4 linked regions of the Homo sapiens genome follow. The protein of the gene in region 3 purifies or fractionates together with the protein of the main gene of each other region. This does not show direct contact. Each region holds a gene or a part of one and is shown on either strand. Other genes may lie near its edges.

Region 1 (6,666 bases), on a different chromosome or scaffold from region 3:
ACCTCATAGGATTCTTGTGGGAATTAAAGCAGATCCATGTGTCACATGCCCTCTAAGCCAAGGGGACTTTACAAATGTTGGGTCCTTTCTCTGAGAAACAGGGGTTTCTAGGTCTTGGTTCTCCTGATCCCAGTGGAGTGAATTAAGGTAACCAGATTGCCACTGAATTCGGTCTTCGTTTTCCACAACCCTGAGGTGATTCAGCTGGTAGGGACTCCCCCCTTGCCCCGCCTCCTGAATTCTTAGCCCTGCACATATGACGTCAGATGGGGCAGGGAGAGGAAGCACCCTGTGGGTGGAGCAGATTCGGAGCCAGCGATGGTTCCCAAGGCCCCGGGCTGGGTTCTGTCACCTGTAGATAGACTTGGGAAGCTGCACAGCAACCTCTGCTTCTCCACTTGCTGTGGACCTTGGCAAGACTTAGTTTCCTCATCTGGGAAATAGGGCTTTAGTTGTTACCTCACAGGGCTTTTAGCCACGTGGTGGGTGCAGTGATCTGAACGGTGCCCGTCCCAGATAGCACTAGGTAGACTGAGTGCTGTTTCCAACCTGTACCGCCTCTTGGGTATACACACAGAATGCTTGTGCTTGTGGCCACCTCTGCAGGGCTGCAGGGGCTATGTGTTTTTCCCACTCCCCGGGTTCTGGGGTTTGGAGAACACGCTTAATTCTGTTTTTGCAGTCATCTTGGGCAGAGATGACTACAGTTGGGCAATGGCAGGATGGCTTGCCTTCCAGGAGCACCGCGTCAGAGGGGCCGGCCCCCAGATGCAGGTGGCTGGTGAGGGGTCTCCACACTCTGTCCTGTGAACTGGGCCATTTCCGTGGTCCCTACCTCATGGGGGCCTAGGGCCTGGCTGCCAGGTCTTACCCAGTGGCTGTGAGCAGTGCCAGGGCCCCTCCTCTGGCTCTCAGACACATGCTTCATACTTGGAGCGGAGGTAGCAGCACATGTGGAGCAGGGTGACCAAGAAGCTTTGGCCACATCTCCCTGAGCACCCTGCAGGTTCTTGGATTATTGGCTGCATTGTTGCCTGAAACTACACAGTCTGAATTCCAGTGGACTCTTCTGGCTGGTAAATAGCCACACCGATAATAGTCTGTGAGCTGAGCAGGCACAGTGGGGAGTTCTGGATCTGAGTAGCTCCTCACTCCCTGGAGAGATGTGTGTGGCAGGACAGCCTGTGGCAGTGCTCTGCCTCCAGAACTTCTGCGGCCTGTTTGCGGGGGGGCCCCCGAGAAGATGGGGCTGCTGCCGCTCCCATCTGTCCGGAATCCCACAAACGCTCACTATTGCTGTGGCTATTCTGGTCCCACAGGCAGATGGCAGCCCTAATATGCTCACTACACCGCAGGCTCATCCTCTAGAAAGGCAGAGGCTGCTCAGGGAAGCTTCGCACTTAAAGCAAATGGAGCATGACAGCATTGAGACAAGAATTACACTGATGTACTTCTCACATCGTTTTTTTGTCGAAAGAAAAACACACATGTTGCCACTTTCACTTGTGAAAAATGGAAACAGTTTTCCTGCAATGAGTGGCCTCAATCACTAAAAATGAATTTGTGTATATTTATAACAAAACGTCGAAATGATTGATATTGATGGCTTCGTTAAGCATTACCAATGAGTACCACCGGGGGGCGGCACAGCACAAGGGGAGTAGGTCAGAGAGCCCAGGGCTCCTGTGGTTAAACTTTTCTCCTTTCCATGAAAATCCTCAAACACATTTTGTATTTTAATTAAATGAAAATACTGAAAATGATACAGTAGAGAGCACTTTTAATGGAAAATTAATTGATAACACAATCTTATTTCAATTTACTTTTTATTTTTAACTTAAACGACTGTGTATTTTCCACAGTCTTATGATGAGAAAGGCTCCAGAATCACGTGTAGGTGTCCTCAACATTTCATAGCTCGAACCGTCCTTTCTTTACGTTGTGCATTGATATGGGCTTCTCAGTTCAGAAAACAAGGCACTATAACTATTTTATCAGCTACATTAATACATTGAAGATATATTTATCCTTTCATGAAAGATACAGCATTTGAATACAATATGGTTTTATGCAGATCAGGTTCAAAACACCCAAGGCACACACTTTATTTTTTTTCCTTTTTTTTTTTCTTTTCTGTGTTTATTTGAAGGCTCGTATTAAAATTTCAAAATTGGCATGAACAAAGAGTTCCAGAGTGGAATCAATGGACAGGGATTGTTGTAATTTTGAACATAAAACGGTAAAGACTGTGGAATGTAGAACAAGTTACAGGAACGATAAACAAAATCACCAATACAGCATGGATTAGAAATCAAAGTGATGAGATCTGCGGAAGTCTGAGAAACAAGTTTGGAAATTCTCTGATTCCCCACAAAGCACGGGCAGTCCTGTCTGCATGCAGCTGCTGTGGTCACCCAGCCACTGTGGAATGTTCACCTACTTGCATGGGTTCATGGTTGTCTACAAATACAGAAACACATTCCAGTTCGCCAGTTATTAAAATGCCTCCAATTTCAAGTAAAAGAAAAAATCTTCCAATAATTTTCCTAGTAAGGTAAACGAATATATTCATCTAGGAAAAGTGGTCTGGAAGAAACCATTGGAAGCAAAGTCTAGGGGGGTGCCAAGGTTTGGGAGAAACTATTGGATGGTGAAGCGGGAGAGCTTGAGGGTGAACTACAAAAGATATGAGGACTGGAATTTTTCCTGAACGTGGAAGCATAGAGGCTGCTGCTCAACTGGGGAATGTGCCAAAGTAGAAGAAACTTTAGGAACTAAAGACAACAAGTTTTCACTGGTGAGGCCAAAGAAGAAGTTCAACGTTTAGGTTTAAAATATGCTTCCCTAAAGCGGAGGGATGGCCCATGTCTTCCTGGCTTAGTTCTTTGCCAATAGACACAAATTCTCTCTTGCTCCAAGCCTTAGCATGTGGTTTGCTTGTCAACCAGAGAGGCGGCCCAGTTCTGCCACTCCCTTGGCCTTATGGCTAGAAGACACCCTGCTGGGGTGTGGGGAGACTGGACCCTAAGGGAAGGGTCCGGATCTGGCTGGCCCTCCGCGGCACCGCTGCTTCCACCCAGAACAAAAGGAAAAGCCGAGCCTCAGCTCCACGCCTATAGCAGCGGTCACAGAAGCAGATTTTGACGTTTTGCATAATTCTGAAATAACATGCACGTATCCATTGATAAATTGAGAATAAGGAAATGGAACCAAGGCAGATTAGCTCAGTGACAGGAGCCTGTTTACTCGATGAGAGAGATTTTTCTGGTCAGTTTTAGAGAGGCAGAGCTGGCCACAATGCCTGAGATAATCTACATTAGATTGCAAGTCGGGCAGCTTTTTGTTTAATTCAGACAGTGTTCACTGTTTGTTTGCAATCAGAACCACAACCTTAGTGCAATAGTATATTTATTTTTTTACAGTAATTTTGGTTGCCATACAAGAGATTTAAGGATTGGGAGAAAGTGCAAATTACAGGAGCTTTTTTTTTTTTTTATAAAGTCTAAAAAGAATAAAAGCACAAAAGTAACAGCAACATAGATAATGCGAACACGTGTTGTTACACAAACTATAGTGTGAAACATATTAGTATTTAAAAAACAAAAAAAAATTGTTAATGGGAAAATCAATATTGTGGCCCACACACAAAAAGTCATTGCCAGATCAACTGGATAATGCTTGCTTGTTCAATAACTGAGAAAAAAATTTACCATTTTATTAACTAAAGTATCACAAATAATTCACTTTGTGATATGTAAAGTTCAGCAAATCAACAGTCACATTGAGTAATTTTTATATTATGTGAATTAACTTAAAATGTGCGCAGACACCCTGGAAAAGGTATCTTGGCAGGTATACATAATTTACATTTTGAGAGATTTGGGTTTTGTATACACAATATTACAGAAACTAGGCATGTAAATGCAGTTTATTTAAATTACAGTATGTAACAAAAGTTGATCTTAAAACCTGGAATAATATCAACATGATCTTTAGATGAGCAGTTTAACATTTGTTCCACCATTAAAGAGGGGCATGGAATAGGGCCTCGTCCTAACATGTCCCAAAGGGGGAGAACAGTGGGTGGTGATTTGAATGAGGAACTATTGCTTTCAGTACCAAAATAAGCAGATAGAGATAGAGACCGATTCATCTTGGCAACATGTGTTTATTTGTTGGTCAGTGCAGGTTCTGATAGGTCTATTACTTCTCTATAATAAGACAGTGTAAAAATAAACTATGTTATCAGCTCTTTAGTCTTGCAGCCAGCTTGCTTGTGGTTAGTGGCATGTGGCTTGGAGTATCTTTAAGAAAGGGAATAACATCTGGCCCTCACCAACTGGCTGCCAAAGTTCAACAAACCGAAGTCACGAGTTTCGACTGGTTATCGTCTGCCAGCGGTTTCCTTGACTCTCCTTTGAGCTAGTGTTTTGCCTGGCACTGAGCACAGAGGTAATACCAACTGTAGGCCCAGGGAAAGTGCCATGCCAAAGGAATGGACTCACGGAATTTTGCGGTATCATCAAATGGAAGACAAATTAATGGCCAAACCACCATTTTTACATTTTCTAAAATATGGGGCAGCCTCAGCAGGCCACCTGTAGTATCCTGTCTTGAAATTTATCTAGAGTAATGCTCATTCATCTCATGATGGAAAAACTGAAAGCACACGGAAGTAAAGCGCCTTAATATTCAATTGACTTCAAGTTGGATTGGATCATTTCAAATACAAAGATTGACCTGCAAAAGGTTTTGGAACAGAAGGTCCAAAAACTTGGTTCCAACATCAGGGGTGTGTGACTGGAAAAGCGCGTGTGTGTGGTGTGTGTTTTGTTTTTGTTTTTGGAGAAACTGCTGCATTATGAATTGTAACCACTTTGAAGAAATTGTCCTTCAATGACGAAGTTCTAGCAAAGATAGAAAATATAACACAGCTCTGCTGGTTCAGATGCATCCAAATAAGGTTGATTTAAAAAGGTCATACTTTTATAATTATTCCACAGAAATAGTATTATTAAATCACAAAAGTTTTTTTTTCTTTAACTTTCTAGCACTGAAGTGGCACAAAGGCTGCCTAGTAGACCAGCCACTTTTTTTTCTTAAAATATTGTGCTTATAAACTATCTGTACAACTATTTAAACTTGCAGTAAAGAAAGATTTTAAATTGCTAAATTTTATGTGTTCATTCTAGAGCTGTTCCAGACCTAATCAAGAAAAAAAGGAAAAAAAAAAAACAAAACCATGTTTTATAATTAGAGATGGGCTGAGCTAGTTCTGAAATAATAATAAAACCAAAAACCTGACATTCGAGTATCCTCCAAATGGGGGAGAATGTGCTGGAAGCCTGACTGTGTGTTTTGCGGCCCATGTGCATCTGGTGACCTCTTTTGGAAATTCGAGGTATTGTTATGGGGTGGAGGGACTCCGGGGAAAGAAAGGGGCGGGGCTCAAGAAAGCCTTGCCAGAGAGGCTGACCTGGCAGCCCAGGAGACCTCCCTGCTTTCCTCTCCTCACGCCTCTGCTTTCACTCTGATCCTGCCGCCCACCTTCTGTTCTCAACCCTGGGTTCTGTCTATACTCCATACCCACTGGGTCCTCAAAGAAGCTGTTGTACTGTTAAGACAAGCTGGTGGGATTCCTAGACACCCAGAGCGATAGGGGAAAAGCCTCTAAGTACCATCTTCCCTGGCCTCCGAGAGCAAAAGGACTGTCTCAGCAGAGATGCTCACCCTTGGCTGGGCACAGAACTGAGGATGCTGTGCCCGCCCAGCTCCCAGAGGAGACGCTGTCTCACTGGCAGCCGCATGTGCCCGCCATGAGCCATGCGTCTTCTTGTCCTTCATGTCAAAGTGGATGCTCACCTGCTCTGATCTTTGCAGAGCTCAAGACATCTTCAATTAAAAAGAATTCTGAGAGGCAGAGAAGCCCTTATTCTCCATCCTGGATGGGTGCTCATGGCAGACAACTGCTCTTGTCCTGGAGACCTGGAGCTTGGGCAGTTGCACGCTGGCTGGCTCCCTTGGCCAGGTCTCCCCTCCATTGTGGAATCGTGACTTTGTGCTTTGACTAACTCCATGTGACATCTGCTTGGCCACCTTGGAATTATGCTAACAGATTTGCAGAAATAAAGAAAGCTAAGCAAAGCTGGGCACGATCCCATCCAAACTCCCAGCACTGCCAGGAACCTCATGGCCAAAGAGCCATGGATGCAAACCACAGGAGGAGATGGGGAAAAGAATCTGTGTAGGAAAAAGTTTCTCTGCCTTTCAGGCCCATGATGGGGCACTGGACAAATGCATCTGGGAGCATCTCACTGCAAGCCAAGTGCAGGAGAAAGAGGGGCAGGTGAGCATCAGGTGTCCTCTGAGAGGCCACAGGACTGAGGAAAGGCCTCATGCCGGGGCCTGGGGTGGTGAGAGCTGCCCGGAAAGCAGAGGACGGAGGTCTCAGGAGGTATCTAGAGTGCACTGGTGTCTGCCTACAAGAGCTAGGATCCCGTGCAAAATTGACGGGGAGCCTCTCGGACCCGGCAAAGCGAGGCCACCTGCATGCTGGGCGGCAGGCTGAGAATCTTTTTCCATGTTAGAAAAACTCCCTCCCCTTGTCCCATGTGTGATAGAAACTGCCCAAGACACCCACATGGTGAGCCAGGGGTCTGAAGACCC
Region 2 (8,442 bases), 590 kb from region 3:
AAGGCCAGGTTGTCCTGCAGTTGGGGCTTCCTTAGTCAGTTTTCTTTGTGTTGTCTGTGGTCAGACTCAGCCACATCTGCTATCCTTGAATGGTAACTATTGACCATCATTGTTTCATTTTCAATGAAAATGCTCATTTAGTGAAAATGTTCATTGACTCTCGATCTTAGTAATTCTGTGAAGTAGGAGAGCAGAATTCATCCCTGTTGATAATTGAGGAATGACAGGCTCTCAGTATGGGCAAATGATGAAGCTAGTACTTGAATACAGGTTTCTCTAACCCTTTACAAACTACAGATTTCCTATTCCCTACATTGTCTATGTCTCTATTAATGACACTATTGGTATAAGCTATTTAAGTAAGTCGCTTACAAAGCTGTGGTATCTGTGTTGGCTGTGTAGTTACAGAAATACATTACAGAAGAAAATAAGTAGTCAGGGTGCCTGTGTGGGGGCTGTGATAAGTGTTGAGAAAACTTTTTTTTTTTTTTTTGAGACGGAGTCTTACTCTGTCACCCAGGTTGGAGTGCAGTGGTGCGATCTTGGCTCACTGCAACCCTGCCTCCCGGGTTTAAGCAATTCTTTGCCTCAGCCTCCCGAGTAGCTGGGATTACAGGCACCTGCCACCATGCCCGGCTAATTTTTTGTATTTTTTTAGTAGAGACGGGGTTTCTCCATCTTGGCCAGGCTGGTCTTGAACTCCTGACCTCGTGATCCACCCACCTCGGCCTCCCAAAGTGCTGGGATTACAGGCGTGAGCCACCATGCCCAGCTGAGAAAACTTTTTTTTTTTTTTTTTTTTTTGAGATGGAGTCTCGCTCTGTCACCCAGGCTGGAGTGCAGTGGTGCAATCTTTGCTCACTGCAACCTCCACCTGCCGGGTTCAAGCAATTCTCCTGCCTCAGCCTCCCAAGTAGCTGGGACTACAAGTGCGCTCCACCATCCCAGGCTAATTTTTTGTATTTTTAGTAGAGACAGGGTTTCACCATGCTGGGCAGGCTGGTCTTGAACTCCTGACCTCATGATCCACCCGCCTCGGCCTCCCAAAGTGCCAGGATTACAGGCATGAGCCACTGCGCCCAGCAGAAAACTTTTTTTAAGAGTTAGGCTTAAGTCTGGTATGTGAGGTAGATGGTGCTGTATTCCCAGAATGATACCCCTTTTTTGTTCAATATACTGTACTCATCTTTGGGGTTCTTCCTTAACAAAGCTACTGTAGCCTTGTGGCCACCCTCCCTACCCTCATTTCACTTTATTTCTGAATCCTTTGACAGCCCTCTTCACCATTTCAGCATCAGTGGAGGCAGGACAAAGAAAACTAATCAATGTGGATAAGTGTCCCCTTCCATACTCCTGAATGAGGTCAAGCTTCCCCCTTGCCTCTGCTAAAAAAAACCTCAGAGTTGGTACTAACTTGGAACAAAGGGACTCTTCTACTCATCAAGGTACTATACGACTTCTACTTGGATTTCAAGGAGAGAAGCCCACCAGCATGGAGGTGGGCTAGGTTTAAAGCACTGTGCTAGGAGTATTATATGAGATTATGACCAATAAGACACATAGGTACAGTGGTTGACCAAGGCAGCTTCTGTTGGAATTCTGATGTCTTGAGTTTAGGGACTTGCTCTCAATCAGTGATCCCAGACTTTTTTGCCAGTATTTGAAAGCACAGACCTGTTTTGGGAGGTGGGGATGCCTGGCTCTTTTTGCCCAGATCTGCTTGTGAGCATGGGCCCAAATCTCTCTGCCCCTCCTGACTTGAGCTTTCTTTTCCTGCTTCCCAGAGCAGGAGTTGCTAACCAGCATTATCACCAAACAAAGAGAGCTGTACCCATTTTCCTTCTAATATGCTCATTAGCCTACCTTTGTTCTAGGTGATGCCCAGTGATGTGACTTTGAATAGAGTCTCCTTTGGGCCAAGGCCACCTGAGGCCACAAGCTGGGCATTCAGTCAGATTAGTCGTTGGCCTATCCTCCTGCCTTTTGCAAGAGGAGGAAGTAAGGAGAGAGTCGGCTAGCTGAGCCTGGGCTTCCTGCCAAGCCACTTCTGCTTTGGGCAGTCTGTGTACTCATTCAGCAAGCATTTATTAGGCACCTTTTGTGTATACTCAGGGGAGACCCTCCCTCAGAGACGAGAGAGTAGAGCAGAGCCCCCTTGCAGGAGGTTGGCATCCTTAAAGAGCCCTTGTTCTCAGAACCTTTTCCTTTTTGACTGGAAGCCGGACATCCGCTGAGCCCCCTGATGGGAGGCAACAGGAGATGGGAACAAAGAGACTGTTAACATTAATGAGGCACACCGAGTGGGCATTTCCGCAGTCTCCAAAGGCAGGCAGGTTTTTCCTCTTTCTTTTTGGAAAATGACAGCTGACATGGACCAAATACAGACTATTTTTGGCTCTCAGGACTGAAAGGACTGAAAGATGCTCTGAATCCTTTCTTCTCAATTCCCTCCCTGCTGCCCTGTCATTATTATCTTCCTTCTCAAGCAAATAAATAAAGCCTTTGATCCTCATCCAGTCGGGCATAGAGTAAACTGTAAACAAAAGTGAACTTGTGACATGGGGAAGGGGAGAGATGTTGGCAGCTTATTCCTCTGCTCCTGAAAGGAAGCATTCTGTCTACTGTTCAGGGTGCCCACCCAGTGGGCAAAGCCCCCCAGCTGCCAAGATGCAAGGGAAAGCTGATCCCTCATTGGTCCCTGCAGACTGAAGAGTCGTAGCTCTGGGTACCCTCTAGACTGAAGGGCCACCATGGCCCTGACAAGGAGCTTTGCTTAGAACCTACCCCCAAGCCACATGGGCTGGTAGAGTTCCAGACCCTGCATTTCTCTCTTTTTTTTTTTTCTTTTTCTGAGACAGAGTCTTGCTCTGTCGCCCAGGTTGGAGTGCAGTGGTGCGATGTCGGCTCACTGCAACCTCCGCCTCCTGGGTTCAAGCAATTAATCCTCCTGCCTCAGCCTCCCAAGTAGCTGGGATTACAGGTGCTTGCCATCACGCCTGGCTAACTTTTTGTATTTTTAGTAGAGACGGGGTTTCGCCATGTTGCCCAGGCTGGTCTTGAACTCCTGACCTCAGATGATCCACCCACCTTGGCCTCCCAAAATGCTGGGATTTACAAGTGTGAGCCACCGTGCCCAGCGACCCTGAATTTCTGTGTAGGGGGAGAACTCTCGGTTACCTCTCTGAGAATTGGCCAAATTCTGGTTCTGCAAGATATGAGACTTTGAAAGATGCTTTGCTGTTCTGATCTCTACTTACCTCATTTATAAAATGTAAATGATGATAGTGCCTGCTTCTACAGCAATAGTGAGGATTCATTGAGATGGCCTGTCATCTGGCAGAAGGCCTGGCCCACTATAAGCACTTACTGAACATTAGCAGTGCTTGTTAATGTGAAGACTGAAGCTGGGTCTCGAATGAAGGCTACAGATGACAATCTAGTCATTTCCCCACCCCACCCCAGGCCCTCAAAAGGGGAATCTGGAAGGGCTGTTTGCCTTGGCACTGATGAGCTCCCTCTCCCTCTTTGCTCTCCTTCCCATTCTCTCTCTCTAGGGGACACTACACAGAAAATGAGAACTGCTCACTATCCTACCCCAGCCGAATTGGATGCGTATGCTAAGAAGGTCGCAAACAACCCACTGACTATAAAAATCTTCCCCAACAGTGTGAAGGTTCCCCAGCGGAAACACGTTCGTCGTACTGTGAACGGCCTCGACACATCAGCCCAGCGCTACAGCCCCTACCCGACACAGGCTGCCACCAAGGCAGGCCTGCTTGCCATTGTCAAAGTGCCAGCCAAAAGCATACTCAAGGACTTTGACGGCACCCGAGCCCGGTTGCTCCCTGAGGCCATCATGAACCCCCCAGTGGCACCCTATGCTACTGTGGCACCCAGCACTTTAGCCCACCCCCAGGCCCAGGCTCTGGCCCGCCAGCAGGCCCTGCAGCATGCACAGACCCTGGCCCATGCCCCTCCCCAGACGCTGCAGCACCCTCAGGGTATCCCGCCACCCCAGGCACTGTCCCACCCTCAGAGCCTCCAGCAGCCTCAGGGCCTGGGCCACCCTCAGCCCATGGCCCAAACCCAGGGCTTGGTCCACCCTCAGGCCCTGGCTCACCAGGGTCTCCAGCACCCCCACAATCCCTTGCTGCATGGAGGCCGGAAGATGCCAGACTCAGATGCCCCCCCGAATGTGACCGTGTCTACCTCAACTATCCCCCTTTCAATGGCGGCCACTCTGCAGCACAGCCAGCCTCCGGACCTGAGTAGCATCGTGCACCAGATCAACCAGTTTTGCCAGACGAGGGCAGGCATCAGCACTACCTCAGTGTGTGAGGGCCAGATCGCCAACCCCAGCCCCATTAGTCGCAGTCTGCTCATCAATGCAAGCACCCGGGTGTCGACCCACAGCGTCCCCACACCAATGCCTTCATGTGTGGTCAATCCCATGGAGCACACCCACGCGGCCACCGCCGCGTTGCCTGCTGCAGGTCCTGTCAACCTGCCCACAGGCATCTCTCGCGTCCCCACTGGCTACCCTAGCGACCTCAAGCCAGTCACCTGGAACCAGCACCAGCTGGCCCACCTACAGCAGATGTGCAGCGAGGCTAGTGGGACGCCAGCCCCTGGCCTGACAGGCAAGCATGCGGCAGGACGCGAGTTGGCAGGGCCTGGCTTTGTGGGCAAGGCCCCTGCCTACCCGCAGGAACTCTGCCTGGCGCAGTCCTTCCATCTGAAGCCACCCCTGGAAAAGCCGACCCCATCCCCACCAGTCAACGGCATGGCAGCCCCATTGGCCTACCCCAATGGTCACTACTTCCAACCCCTGTGGAACAACATTCTGCCCACTCCCAATAGCGACAGCTCGGGGTCTCAGGACCTTGCCATGCCGTTCCACGGTGGGCAGCCCACAGGTGCACCCCTCGACTGTGCGGCAGCTCCCGGGGCCCACTACCGAGCAGGGACCGGGGGCGGTCCAGTGGCAAGCCAGAACAGCTTGATGCAAACAGTGGATTACCTAAGTGGGGATTTCCAACAGGCCTGCTTCCGAGAACAGAGCCTGGCCATGCTGAGCAAGGCCCACCGAGCCCCTGGCAACCGAGCCCCCGATCCCACAGAGAGTCGAAGTCTTCATATTCAGCACCCAGGGTATAGATAGGTAGCCCTGCTGCCCTCCACGTGCAACACATCATACATCACCCTCCTAGGTTTAGTCTTTTAAGTAACTGGATAGTTTCAAAGTTTCACTGCTCCAGTGTGATCATTCTTAGATGTCTAAGAAAGGGAATTTGGTGGGATCTAAGTGGGGACAGAAGGGGTCCTCTCGTCCTCCCCTCCAGCAACTTTTGGTTTTATGTTAGAACCTAACCCTAAGCCCAGGCTTTTCTCTCCACTGACTGCCTGTCAGCTAGTCTCTCCACCTTGGCCATTTCCAGCCAGCTCCCACCCATCTTTTCTTGAATCTCTTCCTGTTTCCCTTAGGACGACTGAGGTGTGGGCTGACGGAATGCCCTAGTTGAGGTAGTATAGGTGCTCAGGCCCCTAATCCAGACCTCTACCTGTTGCTACCCCCCTTCCCCTCCCTCCAGGACTAAGAAGCAAGATTTCCCAGGTGCTCTGAAAGCTAATTACTTACTCATCGAAGGATCTCAAATCAAAGCTGACCCAGTCTTCATATCCTTCAAGTTCCTTTCCATTCCTCAAGGCTTTGTTTTGTGTCTATATTGATCCCACAGCCACTGCACTTGCCCTTGCCACACTTGATCTCAAGGGCATCTTGGAAGTATTTGACCATTTCTTGAGATATGGGGGGAAAAAGTCTTTGTATTGGCATCTTGGTTCCAGACTCCCCTTTCCAAACCTAGAAAAATACAGTGACCTTTGAGCATACCCAAGATCCCTTTCTCACTGTTGCCTGTCCCCTAACTCACCTCCCCACAGCCCCTATCCTTTCCCCCTCAACAAAAACAAAATCTACCTTACTTGAGGAATTAGGTAGGTAAGGAATGATCACATTGGAGTTTGGGATTAAAAACACCAAAAAAAAAAAAATGCATTTGGTTCTCTCTACACTGGCTAAGAATATTGCTCTACACTGTAAGTTTTAAACGTTACGTTTCTGTATGAATGTAGTGTGGGTTTGAGTAGCATTGTGTGTGAGTGGCCCCACAGGTACATTCACCCTCTAGTGCAGCCCCTCAGTTTAATGAAGGAAAAAAAAACAAACACAAAGCCTTAAGCTCTTTGAGTACTTCCTTTACCAAATGAGCATGGTTCTAACACCTGGAGCTGGGCCTACATTGGAAACAAGCCCCTCCTGCCCTCTGTCCATTCTTAGAGCATACCTTCATCCACTCCATGCTCAGCACGTCTCATCCCAAGCGACAATTAGTTGGCTAGAAACACTTTTCTGTAATTTTAAACTTAGACTGTTTTGTTACAAATTTTTGCACCATTCTGTTAAAGATGCAGAATTGGGCTTTTTTATTTTTTACAGATGAAATAAGCCCTTACCTTTCCTCTTGTCTCTGGGGAATGTCAGCTGATGGTTCTTATTTAAGGTTTTGCATTTTGTTCACTATCCACTACTGTTCGTTAGCCAGAAATTCTCTAGTGATCTGAAGCAATGTGACTGAAGACCAGTTTTAAGTTATGTGTTGGCAAGTTGCCTTATATTTAAAAGGAAAAAGAAAAAAAAAAAAGCCTGATTGTGTTATGCCAAATGATAGCAACATGAAGTCCTAATTTATTGTTCCCAATTGTTTTCCTGCCGTCTGTGAACACTGGTACCTCCCTGTCCTGATCCCCCAGGAGCACCTGTAGCTTCTGACTCAATGCCTTCTCCGAAGGTGTTGGCCGCCATCTCACCCAGGGCCCTCTTCCAGTTCCTGCTTTTCTGAGTCAGATTTAAAGAGCACCACTGTCTTCCCCCTACCCCTTGCTTGATCTCCAAAGCAGATATTCTTGCTGTATTTTTTTTTCCTCCCCAATACCTCTCCCTGAAAGGTGAGCTGCTATTTTAGGAAACTGGACCAGACACCAACTTGGGGGCTTTAAGTCAAACAACCTCAAACCCATCTCTTCCTGTGTAGGGGTGCAAGCCTCTGAAGCTCTCACTCCCACCCTTAGTCTGCATGGAAAATGTACTGTGATCCCCCTGCCCCCAACTGCCCTCGCCTTTGGTGTGAGATGTTCCTTCTTTCGGAGTTCAGCCTGAGTCCCTCTCCCCTCTGCCAGCCAACCCCCAGCCAGCAATAAGGGTCCAAGCCAGGGCCTCCTCTCCACACTCCCTGTCTCCATCCTACACTACCCTAGGGAATACCTGGATTCCCCATTCTATCCACATACTGTAGCATTCATTCTCCATCTCTCTCACCTCACCTGTGGTGGTTTATGGGTGTGATGGGGTTTTTAAGATTATTATAAACCAGTAAAAATAAGAAAACCTCGCTTTCTGACCTTGTTCTATTCGTTTAGTGCTGTGAATGTTTGAGGTAACTTTTTCTTAACAGTTTCTAACATACCTCACTTCATAGGAGTAATTCCTAATTTTTAAAAGGGGTACCCCTGTAATATGCATCCCACCCAGAAGCCGTCTCCAAATCCATTATTTAAGGCCAGGTGCTATGGTGATTGTAGACAGTTCTTCAATGAAACCCTGGACACAGGGTACCCGGCTGACAGGCCCTCTCCCTGGGCAGGGCTGCTGTGGGCTTACTGTGAAGTTTGAGGATAAGTGTGGTTTGCTGTCCCTCACTGGAGGCCCAAAAGGTCCTGCCACTTGCATTCCAAGGGCCATAAGTCATTGAGAAATGGCGATCTGGTTGTTTTGTTTTGTTTGAGGCGAAGTCTTGCTCTGTCGCCCAGGCTGGAGTCCAGTGGCACGATCTCGGCTCACTGCAACCTCCACTTCCCAGGTTCAAAGGATTCTCCTGTCTCAGCCTCCTGAGTAGCTGGGATTACAGGTGCCTGCCACCACGCTCAGCTAATTTTTTGTATTATTAGTAGAGATGGGGTTTCACCATGTTGGCCAGGCTGGTCTCGAACTCCCGACCTCAAGTGATACACCTGCCTCGGCCTCCCAAAGTGCTGAGATTACAGGCGTGAACCACCATGCCCAGCCAAGAAATGGGGATCTGGTTTGCTAATAACCCAACCTAAAACTTCAAACCTGCCTTCTTCCACTTCCAACACTTTGGAAATTCTGAGGGCCTCTGACAGAGGTGAAGGTGATAGGCACTGTTATCTGCAATGTAACTGGCTCCTCTTGGTGATTACAGTTTTCTTATGTTGAATTTTGGATAACTTTATTTTTTTGTCTGCAGAGGAAAAAAAAAAAACACTAAGTGATTGCAGCCAGGCACAGTGGCTCATGCCTGTAATCCCAGCACTTTGGGAGGCCAAAGCAGGTGGATCATCTGAGGTCAGGAGTTCAAGACC
Region 3 (8,442 bases):
CAAGCTCTAGATTAACTGACAGGAGCCCCTACTTTCACTTTCTGGCCTATTAAAAAAGATTTCTAGGAATTTATAATAAATAAATTCCTCATGTAAAGGAATTTAAAATAAATAAATTCCTCATGTAAAGGAATTTAAAATAAATAAATTCCTCATGTAAAGGAATTTAAATAAATTCCTCATGTAAAGGAATTTAAATAAATTCCTCATGTAAAGGAATTTAAATAAATTCCTCATGTAAAGGAATTTAAATAAATTCCTCATGTAAAGGAATTTAAATAAATTCCTGTTATTATTCCTATTTATTATTTAAAAGTTCCTATCTATCCTATTCCTATTTAACATATTATTTATTATATATAGGATTATCCTATATATTCCATTCCTATTTATCCTATTTCTATTTATCCTATTCCTATTTATTCTATTATTTAGTTCCTATTTATCCTATTATTTAAAAGTTCCTACTTATTTATTTAAAAGTTCCTATTTATATGATAGAAATATAGAAAATATGTTTTGATAAGCATGACATTCTAAGGCTATAGCAATTTGGGAGTCTGCATGTCTGTCCTGTTTTCTTGATACCATAGCATCTAAGATCTTTGCAAAGTTGAACTCCTCTTCTGTTGATGCCTAATGACTATTCTTTCCAAACAGTTAATGAATGGATTCTGATGCTTCAAATGGATTCAGGCTCACCAAGGTGCTAATCCACAAATCAGACACCTGTGATTTAATAAATACTGAAAATATTCACACCTGAAATGAAAGCTAAGCTCTCCATGCTTGGGCCAGTACACATCCTTTACATTCTAGTCATGCTAGAAATCTCTTACGCTGGCAGAAAACTGTGACACTTAGAAAAATATGACACCACATAAGACCACATTTAGCTAGCTGGACACAATAAAAGAGACCAATAAAACAGTCTTCTTGCAAACAAGTCTTTGGGTAGCAAACTATCTTACCAATTTTCTGTAGTGTCACAATTGTTCTAACTTCATAACCTAATTAGCAATAACATTTCATTTGGATCCTTCCAGGATGGGAAATTCTTACCTAGAGAACACTTCTTTTCCTGGTTCTGGGCTTGCCGAATATAAAGCACTATTTTCTGCACTTATCTAAACCATGGGGTAGCCATCAGCATCAACACCCTACAGGTTAATGGAGATACTTGAGAAGCTTGCTTTCCACAGAAATAAAGATCTCTATACAAAGCTTTTTGGGAAAAGTGTGTAGGTGATACTTTTGGATCTCTAACAACCACACTAAAGGCAGAAGGAAATGACTAGCTTATAAAAACAAACTGAAACATTCAGAAAGTTGTCTAAAATGGGTCAGATCCATACATGAGAAACACTTTTATGATGTCTGCTAGTACCAGGGTAATTAAATCTCAAAGATACAGAGAAAATACAACAGGAAATAATGACTTCCATTAGAAGTTAGAGCCTTTTCCTATTTTAGATCTTCATTTCTCACCCCAACACACACCAACAATTAGACAGACATGAATTCTCCTGCAGTGGCTATGTCAGACTGCCAAACTGAAGATCTATGTATTTCTCTAGCAAAGGGATATCTGAACTCCAGTCCAGTTGCTTCACACTTTCCCTCACATATTTTTTGCAGCAGCAATTCAAGATTCTTGTTCCATATATAGGATTTGAATACTTCCTTATTATTTTTTACTTAAGCTTTTCTGTATGCAAGGTAGTAGTCACATCCATTTTATGACAGCTTATGTCCAGATATGATAGTCTTACAGGTTAAGTCTGTTAAACTTTACTTTCTGAAGAAATTGAAAAGTGAATATTGTCAAAAGTACCCAACATTAGATTAAGTATTATATGTACATAATTTTTTTAACACCAGAATCAATTTTTAAGATGTAAACTTTAAAAAAGACAGTTAAAACGTATAGCATAGAAAAATTTAAATGTTGATAAAAGCAGATATAGTTTCTAACATATTAGGTAAAAATTCTTTGTAGAAAAAGCATAAAAGAAATAATTCTGTCTGGTCAAGTGCATTAATTATTTACAAAGACACAGTAGTCAGTGTGATCTTTTAAAATGTCATCAATCAAATCTTAGTATTCCTTTGGTCAAAACCTTCATTTAAGTTTTCTATCACACTTAGAATAAAATCTTAAGGCTTTATCATGTCACCATGGCCAGGTTCTTTCTCACTTTCTGACCTCATTTCCTACAGCGTCTTCCATCACATACCTTCCCTCCAACATGCCATGCTTGTTCCTGCCTCAGGGGCTTTGTTATGGTGGTTGTCCCTCTTCTTGGAACATTTCTCCAGCATCTTACTGCCTTATTTTATGTGGGTGAAATGTTATATCCTCAGAGAATCCTTTAGTGCCTGCTCTGCTCTGCCACCATTGTCTGTCCCTAACCTGGCTACATTTTTCTTTATGGAACTTCCATTACTTGGAATCATATTTATTTGCATATTTATTTTTGTCTCATGTAAAAGTTTCACAAAGGTTAAGAACAATGCTGTCTTATTTACTGCTGTATCCCTAGAGTCCTGGCACACTACCACCATCGTAATTGCAAACATTTACAGAGTGCTTACTATGTGCCAGGCCCCGTTTTCAGCTTTCCTACTTCATTGTACAACAATCCTCAGAACAGTTTTAGGGGCCAAAAAAAAAAAAAAAAAAGAAGAAGAAGCAGCAAAAAAAAAGGAACACAGAGGTTAAGTAACTTACCCAAGATTTAACATAAGTGGTGCAGCTAGGATTTGAACCCACCAATCTGATTTCACAGCCTGAGCTCATAGTTACTACATTATTTTCATGCAAGCAAATTAATACAAAATACCCAGTAATTATGTCAATATGTGTATTAGTGAATAATTAGCTTTAAAGACAATTCAAGTAACATGAATGGCTTCTAAAGGATTCTCTGAGGAAATTATATTTTAATCATCTCCTGATGTTCTCTGCCATATTTAGATATTTTAGTCCAATAATAAAGGTTAGAAATTTTCCTAAATGTTCAGATTTCAAGAAATCAACACACTAAAAATTTATATTCTAAGCACAAAGTGTAAGTACATTAAGTCACCAATACATTTTCAAGTCAGAGCCATTCACTTAGAAGGAAGAGAGGCCTTCTAACAACTGAAGATTATACCTGTGCAAATTGTCATAGCAGAGCTCACAGCTATGCATCAGTGCATATAATAAAGTCAACTGGCCGGGTGCAGTGGCTCATGCCTGTAATCCCAGCACTTTGGGAGGCTGAGGCAGGTGGATCACCTGAGGTCAGGAGTTCGAGACCAGCCTGGCCAATACAGCAAAACCCTGTCTCTACTAAAAATACAAAAACTAGCCAGGTGTGGTGGAGCGTGCCTGTAATCCCAGCTACTTGGGAGGCTGAGGCAGGAGAATCGCTTGAACCTGGCAGGTGGAGGTTGCAGTGAGCCAAAATGGCACCATTGCACTCCAGCCTGGGCAACAAGAGCAAAACTCCGTCTCAAAAAATAATAATAATAATAAATAAATACATAAATAAACTCAATACTCCCTCTAAAGGCTCATAAGTTACAAAATGAATCTCTTTGTAATCTTCAACTTTATAACTTTCTGAATTTTAAGTGAACCTGAATTTCCTAAAAGCAAATTAGACAGTATAATGAATAAGCCCAAGACACATGTGCAAGATGGATTTTCCTTCAAATCTGCAATAGAATTGCAACTAAAGCCTTAAATTGAAATCATACCTGCTGAATGGGACTCTGTGCCTGAAACAATATTCTTCGTCCTAGTAGTTCTGCAAAGATACATCCCACAGACCAGATGTCAATAGCATTGCTGTAATGACGGCTGCCCATCAGGATTTCTGGAGCCCGATAATACTGAGTAACAACTTCCTGAGTCATATGACGGGATTCATCTAATTCTTCCACTCTGGCCAATCCAAAATCACAAATCTAGACAGAAAAGGCAATCAAAACATTATCAAGCAAATACAAATGAAAGAGTAAAACAAAACATCAAAATTTTGATAGGGCACTGAACTTTGAAACTTTTTTTTTTTTTTTTGAGATGGAGTCTCACTCTGTCACCCAGGCTGGAGTGCAGTGGCACAATCTCAGCTCACTGCAACCTCTGCTTCCTGGGTTCAAGGGATTCTTCTGCCTCAGCCTCCCGAATAGCTGGGACTACAGGTGCCTACCACCACGCCTGGCTAATTTTTTTTTTTTTTTGTATTATTTAGTAGAGAAGGGGTTTCACCATATTGGCCAGGCTGGTCTCAAACTCCTGACCTCAGGTGATCCATCTGCCTTGGCCTCCCAAAGTGCTGGGATTACAGGTGTGAGCCACTGCGCCCGGCCACTCTGGAACATTTTTAATGATATAGGTATAGTATATTTATGTCAATATACAATCTGGTTTTATTTGGTTAAGAGAGGAAAAAAGTCTCAAACTTACATCATTTTCTTAAAAATATTCTTCTCATCTTTATCAATAAAAACATGTCTGTTTTCAGTTGATAATCGAAGCAAAAAAAACTAGGTGAACGTAAACGACTTTATTTATTTTTTTAGACAGGGTCTCACTCTGTCTCCCTGGCTGGAGTGCAGTGGCGTGATCGATCTGAGGCTCCTCCCACCTCAGTCTCCTGAGTAGCTGGGACTACAGGCATGTGCTACCACACCTGGCTAATTTTTGTGGGTTTTTTTTTTTTTTTGTAGGGATGAGGTTTTGCCATGTTGCCCAGGCTGGTCTTGAACTCCTGGGTTCAAGCAATCTGCTTGCCTTGGCCTCCCAAAGTGCTGGGATAACAGGCGTGAGCTACTGCACCTGGCCAAATGCATACTTGTAGGTTTGATTTAGAGACCAACTGTTGGCCAGGCACAGTGGCTCATGCCCGTAATCCCAGGGATTGAGAGGACTGCTTGAGAGATCAGGAGTTTAAGACCAGGCTGGACAACATAACAAGATCTCAACTCTACAAACAATTAAAAAAAAAAAAAGCTGGGCGTGGTGGTGTGCACCTGTAGTCCCGGCTACTCTGGAGGCTGAGGTGGGAGGACTGCTTGAGCCCAGGAGTTTGAGGCTACAGTGAGCTATTACTGTGCCACTGCACTCCAGCCTGGGAGACAGAGTGAGATTGAGACCCTATCTTTAAAAAAAATTTAAAAACCCCCACAAAACCAATTACTTTCAAGACTAGTTTAGAGAGGAAGATATCATAAGATAAAGGGGTGTATCTTGAAGGTCTCCTTAGCTGAGACTGTGTCTGTCGTCTTTATGAAATATATGTGAATTTCTTTAAAGCAATGGGTTTCAAACTGACTCCAGTTGAATCTACTTCTGACTTTAGGCATTCCATGAATATTATATCCAAACTTCACATGTACCTATCTATTTAAAATACAAATTCATACTCAAATGTATAAATATGTTAAAATGCAGTATATGGTAGAATACTAATGCTATGGGGTTCATTCATTTCTTCATGCCATAAATATTTAAGTTAGTACTTGTTATATTACAGACTGTATGTTAGAATCTGGAGATACAGCAATAAATAATAAAGACAGGTTAACTTCTATACAAACTTAGAAATAAATCTTTTCTTGCTATTTCTGCTCAACTGAAAAGTATGCTGAGGGTTACAAGGTGAGCTATTAATAAACAGCAGCCGTGCCACCACCAGCAACTACTACTTATCTTTAGGAATTAAAATTTTCTTGATATTGGGCAATCAAAACACAACTAGGAGCACTGAGGATGAGATCAGATAGTAATGGCCATCTAAGCTCCAGTGTTCTCACTGATTAACTTTACAAGTCACAATATTGCAAGTGATAAAATATGATTTTAAATCTGTTTTCTAAATTGAAGTCCCCAAATAAGATTTTATTTGAAAAAGAGTTCCGGCAGCTTAAAAAGAAAATCTGAAAACCCCGTTCTAAAGAAAACAAAATTTATCCCCCAATTTTTGGCAATCCCCTCTTTCTGATTTGAATCTACTATGTCTGGTTACATCAAATGAATTCAGATGTGTATGTGGGAATGAATCAGTATGAAGCCACCATCTTTACAACTTAAGAAAGCAGGAAAATTTTCCATACTATACAGATAAACCATATAACATAACAACAAAAGCCCGAGTTCATCAAATATGTTCAAATAACATATATATATATATATTTTTTGAGACAGTCTCACTCTGTCACCCAGACTGAAGTGCACTGACATGATGTCGGCTCACTGCAACGTCTGCCTCTCAGGTTCAAGTGATTCTCGTGTCTCTGCCTCCTGAGCAGCTGGGACTAGTGGCATGCGCCACCACGCCTGGCTAATTTTTGTATTTTTAGTAGAGACAGGGTTTTGCCATGTTGGCCAGGCTGGTCTCAAGTTCCTGGCCTCAAGTGATCTGCCCACCTCAGCCTCCCAGTGCTGGGATTACAGGCGTGAGCCACTGCGCCCGGCCAAAATAACATATAATATTTTAAAAACTCTATTACTTGGCCATGACTCTTGAGGATATTTTTAAAAACCAAACCAACAAAAGGAAAGAACATAATTTTTTTCTCATATTTATATGAGAAAAACCAACCAACCACCCATCCAACAAAAAAAGGCCTTCTGTTATAAAGCAAATCCCTTATTAAAAACATCAGTATGATTTCGTCATTTTTAGCAACTTATTTGGAAGACAACCTGAGTCCAAAATAGGAAGCTTACATGATCAGATAACTAAAAAAATTCCAGCAAAATTATCCATCTTGTGCTTAATAGGAAACAAAATACATTCACGATATGGAAGGATACTGATTTTTAAAAAATGTTTTGTTATAATGATCTTCAATGAATTTGTATGTTTGAGAAGAAAGAACTAGTGTCTATAGCCTAGACTCTATTCTGGCTTTTTAAAAGTAGGCCCATAAGATGAGTCAAAGGAGTGGAGCAAAATTTGTTTGTTCTGATTTGTGTGTTGTGTATTCACAAATGGCATTTTCCTTTAGTTGCCCATTCATACAGTCCAAGGTTATAAAACCATAACGGACAATTTGGAAAATGAACTTCAAGCAGTTAATGGCATCAAACATGACAGGTCCTGCACAAAATCCTGTGTGAAGTCTTCCAATCAAAAACCAAAATAAGAAGAAATTGGCTTAAACTGTCGTAAGATTGATTAGGTATGAATAGGACAAAAAAATTTCTAACTATAAGGTTTAAATTTTTTTTTTAATTAAAAAACGATTATGGGGATAGGTTGCAAGTTCTCTTTAAAAAGTGAAAAGGTGGCAGGAAAAACTCAATAACCTATAGAAGGAATACTTTAGTAGATTTTGGTGGCAATTAACTTCTCTGTGGAAACAAAAGACTGAATTACAACATCAGCTATTTTTAGGGAAAATATGAAAAATAGGTTTTCATCTTTCTTGAGTTAAAATAAGGGTGAGGGTTCTTCAAGGCTATAATGAAGGGAGAATTTTCATTCATAAGCAGTATAATCCACCAGCTTTTCAAGAGAACTGACCTACAGTTCAGAGAAATCATTTAAAATAAAAAATGAATTTTATTTATACACTTGGTTTTATTACTTAGTTTAACCGCCAGCAACCTAAGTAATAATGATAGTCTTGATTACTTTTAAAGTGGGTAACATTTTAAAAATTTATTTTTCTTTTCAAATATAGCAGTTAAAGGCCCTTATTTCCAATTTCTATTATGAGGAAAAATATAGTGGACCTCTCTCTATTCAAGAGTTCTGCCAATACACATCTGTATTAGAGGTAGGGAAATACAAATATGTGGACTTTGCTATTTGCAAGCCCCTTTTTAAATGAAAGACAATGGCTGTACTAGGGAAGAGAAGTAAAACTGAAACTGATGACTTGAAATTTTGGAACTACTAAATATAATTCTGTAATCAATTCCTCTTCAGAGGAATAATTAAGAATTGGCTACTATACATTATGGAAATACATTGGATAGATGCATATTACCCTTTTCTGGTTTGGCATTTTCACTTTTTTTTTTTTTTTTTTTGAGACAGGGTCTCACTCTGTCACCTAGGTGGAAGTGCAGTGGTGTGATCACAGCTCACTGCAGCCTTCACGCTCTGGGCTCAGGTGATCCTCCCATCTCAGCCTTCTGAGTAGCTGGAACTACAGGCATGTGCAACCACACCTAGCTAATTTTTGAATTTTTTATTGAGATGGGGTTTTGCTGCATTGCCCAGGCTGGTCTTGAACTCCTGGGCTCAAGCAATCTGCCCGCCTCAGCCTCCCAAAATGCTGGAATTACAGGCATGAGCCACCGTGTCTGGCCAGCACTATCCCTTTTAAATATGTTTCTACTTCTTACTTTGCTACCTTGGTCAAACAGCATATAGATATGTTAGCTGTGTAAAAATGTAAATGGTCTTCCTAAAAGTCACACTTCATTCTCTTATA
Region 4 (8,442 bases), on a different chromosome or scaffold from region 3:
TCTGGAAGGACACCCAGGAAGCTGACGACATGGACCCCCTCTGCGAGGGAAGCGGGTGGCTGGCCCAGAGGGAGGCTTTTGTCTATATACCCCTTCCTTCCTCCAAGTGTTGCATAACATGAATATGTTCCCTTGTCTAAAGATAAATATTTAAAAGAAAAAAAATATTTTCACATTGTAAGCATCATGCTAAATGGCAACGGATCCTGGGCTATAGCACAGAAGCAATAGGGAGGGGTGGGGACCGCGGTGACCTGGAGACAGACATCCCTTTAAAAGAGGCAGTCATTCAGCTCTAACCATAGCTGCAATACAGGCACACAGGCCTATGTTACCAGAGCCTCTGTTTTTGTTTTTTTCAAGAGATAGTAGAAATCCATATTTTAATGCAAATCTCCGTTTCTAAGTACTTCATTAAAAAAGAAATTATGATAGCTAAAAATAACCAAATCAGAGCGTTTCAGATCCTGGTCCTAGATAGTGAGAACAGACCCCTGGTCACCAGGTCTAGGTCCCAGTGAAAAAGCAAGGCCAGAGAGGGAAGGAAACACCCAAGACCACACAGCTCATGGGCCTCAAGCGGGGACCCCATTCTGTCTATTTTTTGCTTCCACGTCATCCTACTTTAATGGTGGTAAGGGAGACACACATGGCTAGATAATGGTGGTGAAGTTGCAGAGGCGGGGTTGGGGCATGGCGATGGTGGTGGTCAGAAGAGGCTGCTGGGAAGGAGGTCAAGCCAGAGTTGAGAGTCTTGCTCCACAGGAGCTGGCCAAAGGAGTGGGTGTCATTTTGGGGATGGAGACCAGGAAGGCAGCACAGCCGGGGCCAAGGCCTGGGGGCCTAAGAGAGCATAGAGACTTTCCGACAGGGCCATGGTAGGTGGACATCCTGGGGGGTGAATGGCGTTCTCTGCCCACGACCTGCCCTGCAAAGGCTGGGGAGGCGTCCTACTCACACTTGCGCAGCTCCAGGCTCTTGCTCGGGCAGGCCAGGTGTTGGCCCGGGGCGTTCTGGGTCCTCTGCAGACAGGCCAGCATGGCTGAGCTGGGGGTCCCCAGTGGGGTGCGCTCTGCGACTGGGTCCCTGCAGGAGGAAGATGGGGTGCTCTGTCACTTGGGGGCTGCTCCGTGTTCGCCTCCCACCATTCCCCCCGGGAGTCTCCCTGCAACCCCGAAGAACATCAGAGACTCTCAAAGCAGACACCCATTTCCCTTATTCGACCAATGAGGGGACCAAGGCCTGAGGCATCAAGAGGCCCATCTGTGGCCTCATGGGAAGGGACAGAATCCAGGGCTCTTGAGTGGGGGCTGGACTGATGGATCACACATGCCCCGGCCCTGCTCGGCATCTGGGTCATCTGCTCTGGGGCCTGCCCTGATGCCCCCAACTGGGTGAGATCCTCACTCCCTCCGTGCCCCGCAGCAGGCTGTGCTTCCGGCCGGTGGTGGCCCCCTGTAAGCAAGTCAGCCTGAAGACCCCACTTGGTCATCTTGGGCATCTACACAGAGGGGTGCTCGGGAAATGCCAGTGGGTACATGGGTGTCCCAGGTTACTGAAGTACTGGTCTGTCTCCCGCCCAGGGCATCCTCATAGCCCCCCTGGAGGGGAGATGTCAGGATGGCTTTCCTGAGAGAACAAGGGGCTCTTGAACCTTGATCCATGCTGCACCCTGAGCCCAGCCCCAATGGGCCATCAAGGCTGCCCTGACCCGAGATCCCTGTCGCTGCCTGAGCTCCTTACCCTGAATGGGAAGGGCAGAGATCTGTGCCCCGCAGGGCAGCAGCTCAGATGTGGCTGCACACAGGCCCGTGTGGTACCTTCCCCAACGGCCAGAGCCTGACATTCACACAGACACTTGCCTTCAGCTTCCCCAAACCCACTCTCCTGCAGAGAACGTTTCAGGAGGCCCAGGCACATTCCTGAGAGCCCAAAGCCCCTGACTGGCAGGGTCAGAGTGGGCCTGCCTGTGAGGCCCCAATGGGAGGGTGGCGGTGGGAGCTTACCTAGAGGTCCCTTCCTCCCTTCTTGCTAAGGAGAAGGCAGGTCTCAGGGTGAGCTCAACCCCGGACACCCCTGATGTCCATCTTCCCGGGCACCCTGTCCCCACCACTTCCTGACCTCCCACAGTCCTGAGCAGCCAAGCTGGATCACCTCAATCTTCATGTTGGTTTTAAAAAAGAAGAAGAAAGCAGAGGGGGTGTTGAAGGGGAAGAAAGGGAAGTTATTTAATACTAAACAGGTGTCTGGAGTCCTAAATTCTGCCGCTTTCTTCTAATAATGAAGTATTCATGAGGAAAAGCCTTTTTTCACTACTTTCTTAAGATACTAATTTCACAACAAGCTCCTTGTTACGGCGCAATTATTCCAATCTTGTATTTCCCGGAGACGGTTGCAGCCTCCCGTCTGTCCTGGCCTCTCGGTAAATGAAAGACAATCGCGTAACCACCTTTCATTATGCCCTATTTTACTTTCAGCAAAGGTACCCTGAAAGAAATGATTTCCTCTGAAAGGGACTTTTATTCAGTTTCAAAACCAATTTTCTCCTATTACTGTCTCAAGAAAAAAAAAAAAAGAGCGAGAGAGAGAGAGAGTGGAGGATGGAGGGGAGGGGAGGTGATTCTCACCGCCCCCTCCCCAATCGCCAGCCTTAACACAGAGACGCAATAAAAGCTGCAGTATCCACTTCCCGGCTTTGATTTCTGGTAATTTTAAAATAGGCCATTACAATCAGGCAGAAATTATACAGTTTAAAAAGGGAATGAAGTGGGGCTTATTGCAGGGATGAAAGTCCTTGACTGCAGGAAGGCAGTGCTGCTCCTCTCCTCGGGGACTTGGAATGTGAGCAGGTGGCGGGAGCAGGCCTGACTCGGGCCTGCCATCACCACAGCCTTGGACACCAGCCCTGGAGGACACGCCGTGCATGTGCACAGGGAGGGCTGGGTGTGCACACACACCCTGGTACACACTCACCTATGTACATATGTGTTTGCTGCATGGCATGTTCCTCTGCACTTACAGGCACCCTCTTACGCACAGTCGGATGGTCTATGGAGACTCACAATCATGTGCAATCTGGAAGGTAAGAGGCCTGTGGCAACCTCCCTCACCCTGCCCCAGCCTCTTTCTGTGGCCCCTGCTCCAGGGCAGAGTCCATCTCTAGCCGCTCTGACATAGGGGTTGGGGGAAAGGAGGGAGATCCGGAGAAAGCCAGTCCAAGACCTCTCCCTCCACAAATGGGAAACCCAAGCCACAGGGAGCAGTGGCCTGCCAGGCAGGGAGTGGCTGGGTGCACTTACCCCCTCACCACTGAGCTTGGCTGCACCCAGGCCAGTAAGGAGGGAGGTCAGAGGCTGGTGCCCTGTGGAAACCTGGGCTGGAAGGCTGGAACCTCCTTGCCTCCCAGCACACCCTGTGTGACCCCGGCTGGGTTAATGACCCTCTCTGGCCTGTAACAGTGGCTCCATGATCCCTGTGGGTACCTCCAGGTCACTTTCTTCCAGAGTCCTGGCCATGCCCGGCCCTATCTCCAGCCTTTTACTGGGGTCCAGAAGTCCAGCCCTTCTCTAGGTGCCCTAATGTCCCTTGGGCCATACATCCCACATGCTTTGCAGTTGAAAAAGGGTGGGCTGGGGGCTGCAATTGTTGGGGAAGGGGCAGGTCGCCTATTCTGGAGCCTCCTGGGACCCCATCAGCTCCCTTCCCAGCAGGGCTCTAGTTGTCAGCGTGCTCTTATGGTGGATGCCAGGCAGTTCTGGGAGCTGGGAGGGGTTTTCAGGGTGTGATGGTGTCCAAGTGTAGGCCTCAGCTTTGGCTCAGCTTTGCCAGGGCAGCTGCCTACATCCTCCCATTCCTTGCTTCTGGAGGGCTACAGGCAGCCTGAGAGATGCTCTTCACTTAAAGAGGAGGGACTTTTTTCTCTCTGCAACCCCAGTTCTCCCAACTCACTGCCCATTCTCCCAGGAACCCTGTGTCCTGCCACTGGGGGCACATGGCAGGGTGGTGGGGTGTCCTAGGAGGGAAGTGGGGAGGGGACCACCACCTCCAACTCCTGCATCATCCCCATCATCTGCAACCAAGACGGTCAAATCCCCCTCCTTGGCCTTAAAACCTCTCTGGCCCCGGCGTGGAGCCCAGCCCTCTTTGCCCACCACACCTCATCTCCCTCTTGGCTCCCCCTGGCCCTCCTTCCAGCCAGGCTGCCTCACACCTCCAGACCTCTGCCCCTGCTGGTTCTCCTGCCTACGGCACCGTGACCCTGATCCGTTCGAACTCAGATCTGTCTTCAGACCCTGGCTCACCCTTCCCTTCCTCTAGATATCCACCATCTCTGCTCTAATCACACCAAGGTGTAATTGCCAATTTTCACATCTCTCTCCCTCCGCTGGACTGTGTTTCTTAGGGGTAGGGACCGTGTCTTATTTGTCTGTCTCTCCCCAGTGCCTGGCAAGAGTAATCATTTACTAGATAGGTGTTGAATGAATGGCCGAATCAATGAATTGGTTATTGTCAGATAAAGTGATCTAGGCCCAGAGAAGCCAAGCGTCCCAAACAAGGTCACACAGCAAGGCAGGGACAGGACTGGGGCATGTGCCTAAAACACTCATGTTCTTTCTGTGACCCCATCTTGCCCCCTCCCTGCCTGGCATCATCCCATCTGCAGGAGGCCAGCCTCTCAGAGTCCCCGCCTGGACTCATTACCCCCCTGGCCAAGCACCATCCAGGGAGCACTGTTCATTTTGAAACCCTATCTGCAAATCAGACTGTTTATAAGCTCAAGGTCTTTTGTGACTTTAATAAAAAAAGGGGGGGCAGGGAGGGGAAAAACGTCGCATGCCTCAATGATTAGAATGCTTGGCACCTTCCCTGACATGGGGGCTGATAAGACGCCTTATCTCGGAGACACCCGAGGAAAAGGTCCCCTCCACCAGATAACGCCCCCAGCTGTCGATGTGTCCTTTCATAGCTGAGGATTTAGATAAAGGAAATGTGACAGGGGAGGGGAAAGGAAGGAAGGAACTTTTCAGGTCCGAGGAGGAATTGAGTCTGTGATGCTCGCCTTAGCAGAACAATGAATGGGAGGAGGCTGTCTCTGTTTTTATGAAAAGAACAGGGATTTGGGGGCTTGGGCCCTGCTTGCCTTTTGTCATCTCGCCCTCGCCTGTCTGGCTGCAGGGGGCGTCAGGGAGCCCACGGGCCAGTGGGAGGGGAAGCTCTGAAAGAGCAACATGCAATTTGGGCTCTTAACGGTGGTGAGCATGTATTGACTGCCCTCTGTACCAAGCCCATGCGCCTCCTCCTCGTGGCCTCTGTGGCTCCATTTCACAGCTTAGGAAATGGCCACAAAGAGGGAAGGCCATCTGTGCAAGGTCACATAGCTTTTAGATAGCAGAGCCCAAGGATGCCAATGCCAGTCAGTCCCTCAGCCCCACACTGTACAGCAGCTCCATCGTGGTTGGGGGCCCGTCAGCCCTCAGCTCCCAGTCAACTGGGCAGGGAGGGATGGAAGCAAGGGTCTGCTTCTCCCCAGGGCCCAAATCCATTTTGATTCTACTGTGGGAGGGGCTGGGATCACAGAAGGAAGGGGTGAGAGGAGGGGAAGGGCTCCCAGAGGCCACTTATTCATCCCATAAACATTCAAGGAGCGCAAATCAGGAGGCCAGCATTGGGCAGAACAACACTGAGATGAGTAAAGCCCAGGCCTTGCTTCTTACCCACCCATTCATTCATTTAGGCAGCAAACACTTCCCAAGCATCTTTTGAGGGCCAGCCCTGTGCCATGTACTGGGAGGACGGAAATGACTCAAAGTGTCCTGCCAGAAAGGAACATCTAGCCAGAACTGACCTCCCAATAAAAATGAATGTTCCTGACCTCTCTCTGCCTCCAGCATTTTCCTGATGTGGCAGGCATCTGGAACTTTCCCTCGTGTCCACAGGTCAGCAGTCTGCCCCTTGCCAGGCTGGGTTGACCCCAAGGCAGAATAGGAGGAGGACACACCTGGCTTCACGGCAGGGCCCTGAGATTGTGACCCCGGGAAAGCCATGGGCTGCGCCTCTGAGCCCCCATCTCCTCCTCTACCTCCAATCCCTAGAGCTACCCACCTGGCTTCTGTGGCTCCATTCAAGGCCAAAGCCTAGCTGTGACCTGGAGGGGAAGGTCATGCCAGGCCCTTCCTGGTGTCCAACAGGACTAGTTCAGAGAAGAGAGCTGGCCCCAGAGGCCTCTGGGTTGTACCTGCCAGGCAGGGGCCAGGCACTGGGGTTCTCACTGGCTGGGTGACCTGGAGGAAGTCACAGCACCTCTCTGAGTCTGTTTCCCAAATGAACCTTTATGGGGAGTGGACCAGCTGATAGTATGAGGGCCATCTAACTTGGACATAAGAGGATGTGATCATTTGGTTTCCAAACTTAATCCAGCTGTGTACAAGGTGTGGGGCAGTCCCTGAACTGTGGGCACACAAAGGGGCTCTAGACGTAGCCATTGTCTTTGAGGGACTTAGAATCTCGAGCAGGGACAAGATAGGAAGCTGGCAAAACCCAGCAGTTCATCATGCAAGGAGTAGAGTAGATGGTTCAGACTCTGAATTCCCTTTCAGGAAGTGAATGAGATGCTGGCCACTCCTCAGGGCCTCGCAGCCTTCCTGGGGGTGGTGGCAGGATAGGTGGGTGGTGAGGGAGCCCTCCCACAGTTCTCACCTCCATCCCTCTGGCTGTAATTCAAGTCTCTTCACGCTGCCTGGCCACACAGCCTGCTCCAAAGGCAGATAGGAGCCTGAAATGGTGGTGAGAGGCCCAGGGCCCGGGGAAGAGAATGAATGCTGGATTGGGAATACTAGGGTCAGACCCTGGTGGTGTGGCCCTAAATGGGTCACTTCTCTGTGTTGGTCCCCAGCACCACGAGCTGAGCAAGTAGAAAGCCTCAGAAAGTCCAGACCTCTCTAAATAATGAGGGGCAGCAAACCTGCTTCTGGCCAGGAAGAGTGGAGGGACCCTTGCCCAGCCCAGGAATGTCCTCAGGAATCTAGGTGCAAGCTTCCCCCAACCCCCTTAGGGGCTCCCACGACAGGAAGATCCACTGTCTGTCTCTTTCCTCTCCTCTGTCTACATCCCTGTCCTTAGCTCCACCTGCCTCCTGTCCTGATGCCTCCCTTCTCCTTCCTGCTGTCTCTCTCTCTTTCTCCCTTCCTGACCCCTCTTCCCTTGCTCCTTCCTCTCTCTCCCACCCCGCTTGTCTCAGCAAGGCAGCCAGAGTAGAAGCCCATCCCCACCTCCCTCCTGCCGCTCCCTCCCCCATCTCTGTTCTGAGCCGGAGGCCTTCCAAGGGACCCTGTTAATAATTAAATGTTAATCTAAAAAGCAATTTGAGCTGCGGCTAGGCAGATCTGGTTAGAGATTACATTAGCATGGAGGAGGCGAGGGTAATTTTCTTTAACCCCTCTCCTGATCTCTCAAGCCGGGGATTCTTCAAGTCACACCGGCACTGCTGATTAAACTGGCACAGGGCTTGGCTGTGGATAAGGGGCCTGTGAAAAGTGATTATTTCCCACTGCCATTTGGGCCTCAGCACCAGAAGGGGATTTTTACCTTTTTTTTTTTTTTTTAAGGTTGGGGGCTGGGGAGGTACTGTCCCCTTGAATAGGAGGCCTCATCTTCTGCCAGAATTACCACTGTATCTGTCCCCACCCCAGCAGGCCAGGGGCTCTCTAAAATGCTGCAAATCTTGTCACAGAGCATACCTGGCTCTTTGGTTTCTAGGACAAAGATGCCAGTCCCCTGCCTGGCTCCAACACCCCTCCATTGTGCCTGGTTCTGGGCTGGGCACTAGAGCCAGAGATGCTGGCAGTTCTGAGCCAAAGGGGAGACCAAAAAGTAAAGTGACAATCACCAATTCTGGCTGGCAGCCAGAGTCCTGAGGTGGGCTTCCCTCTGCACAAGACTCTCACCTGCACACTTGCAGGCTTTGGCCCATGCAATCCCAAGAGCCAGGAAGGACTTTTGAGCAGAAGGACTGCTCAAAAGCCCTTTCTGGCTCTCTACCCCTTAAAACTCAACTCGACCTTCAATTGGAGTCCGGGTTCCTGAGGGCTTCTCCAAGACATACAAGGTACATAATAAATGTTTGATGAATCGTCAAATGACTGGAGTCCCATGTGGCTCTCCTTGATCCTTCCTCTATGGGTTCACGGTGCTACAGCAGTGCCTGAGCACAGGGCCCTCAGGAAAACGTCTCCTGAACAAAGGATGGGCAAGAGGCTGTCCTAGGGAGTTGGGGCAGGGTGGGCCTCAGGAAGTGTCCTACTGGGACACACAGCTGGGGTCTGGGGGTAGGTGGCCATTCCTGGGCCTGTCAGCACCACGGCCAGCTCCCGGCGCAAGAGCCCTGGAGAAAGGGGCGGGGTACAGCCTGAGAGCATAGTGATGTCAGTCGCCATGGGAACTGAC

The links.
Region 1: the proteins of NLK (region 3) and SHANK2 purify together in Homo sapiens (affinity purification with mass spectrometry; 2 studies listed by BioGRID and IntAct, with this or other methods). This does not show direct contact.
Region 2: the proteins of NLK (region 3) and FAM222B purify together in Homo sapiens (affinity purification with mass spectrometry; 2 studies listed by BioGRID and IntAct, with this or other methods). This does not show direct contact.
Region 4: the proteins of NLK (region 3) and FAM222A purify together in Homo sapiens (affinity purification with mass spectrometry; 3 studies listed by BioGRID and IntAct, with this or other methods). This does not show direct contact.

The regions. Positions count from the first base shown.
Region 1 is NC_000011.10:70,466,042-70,472,707, forward strand, and holds the end of SHANK2 (SH3 and multiple ankyrin repeat domains protein 2), read right to left. Parts: 3' UTR 1,813-6,666; downstream 1-1,812. UniProt on the Homo sapiens protein: Seems to be an adapter protein in the postsynaptic density (PSD) of excitatory synapses that interconnects receptors of the postsynaptic membrane including NMDA-type and metabotropic glutamate receptors, and the actin-based cytoskeleton.
Region 2 is NC_000017.11:28,754,989-28,763,430, reverse strand, and holds the end of FAM222B (protein FAM222B), read left to right. Parts: intron 1-1,274; exon of another isoform or gene 1,275-1,357; coding exon of another isoform or gene 1,358-1,445; intron 1,446-3,554; coding exon 3,555-5,161; 3' UTR 5,162-7,451; downstream 7,452-8,442.
Region 3 is NC_000017.11:28,163,963-28,172,404, reverse strand, and holds part of NLK (serine/threonine-protein kinase NLK), read right to left. Parts: intron 3,958-8,442; coding exon 3,748-3,957; intron 1-3,747. UniProt on the Homo sapiens protein: Serine/threonine-protein kinase that regulates a number of transcription factors with key roles in cell fate determination. Positive effector of the non-canonical Wnt signaling pathway, acting downstream of WNT5A, MAP3K7/TAK1 and HIPK2.
Region 4 is NC_000012.12:109,736,745-109,745,186, reverse strand, and holds part of FAM222A (protein FAM222A), read right to left. Parts: intron 7,178-8,442; exon of another isoform or gene 6,697-7,177; intron 6,282-6,696; exon of another isoform or gene 2,974-6,281; intron 1,087-2,973; 5' UTR 1,041-1,086; coding exon 959-1,040; intron 1-958.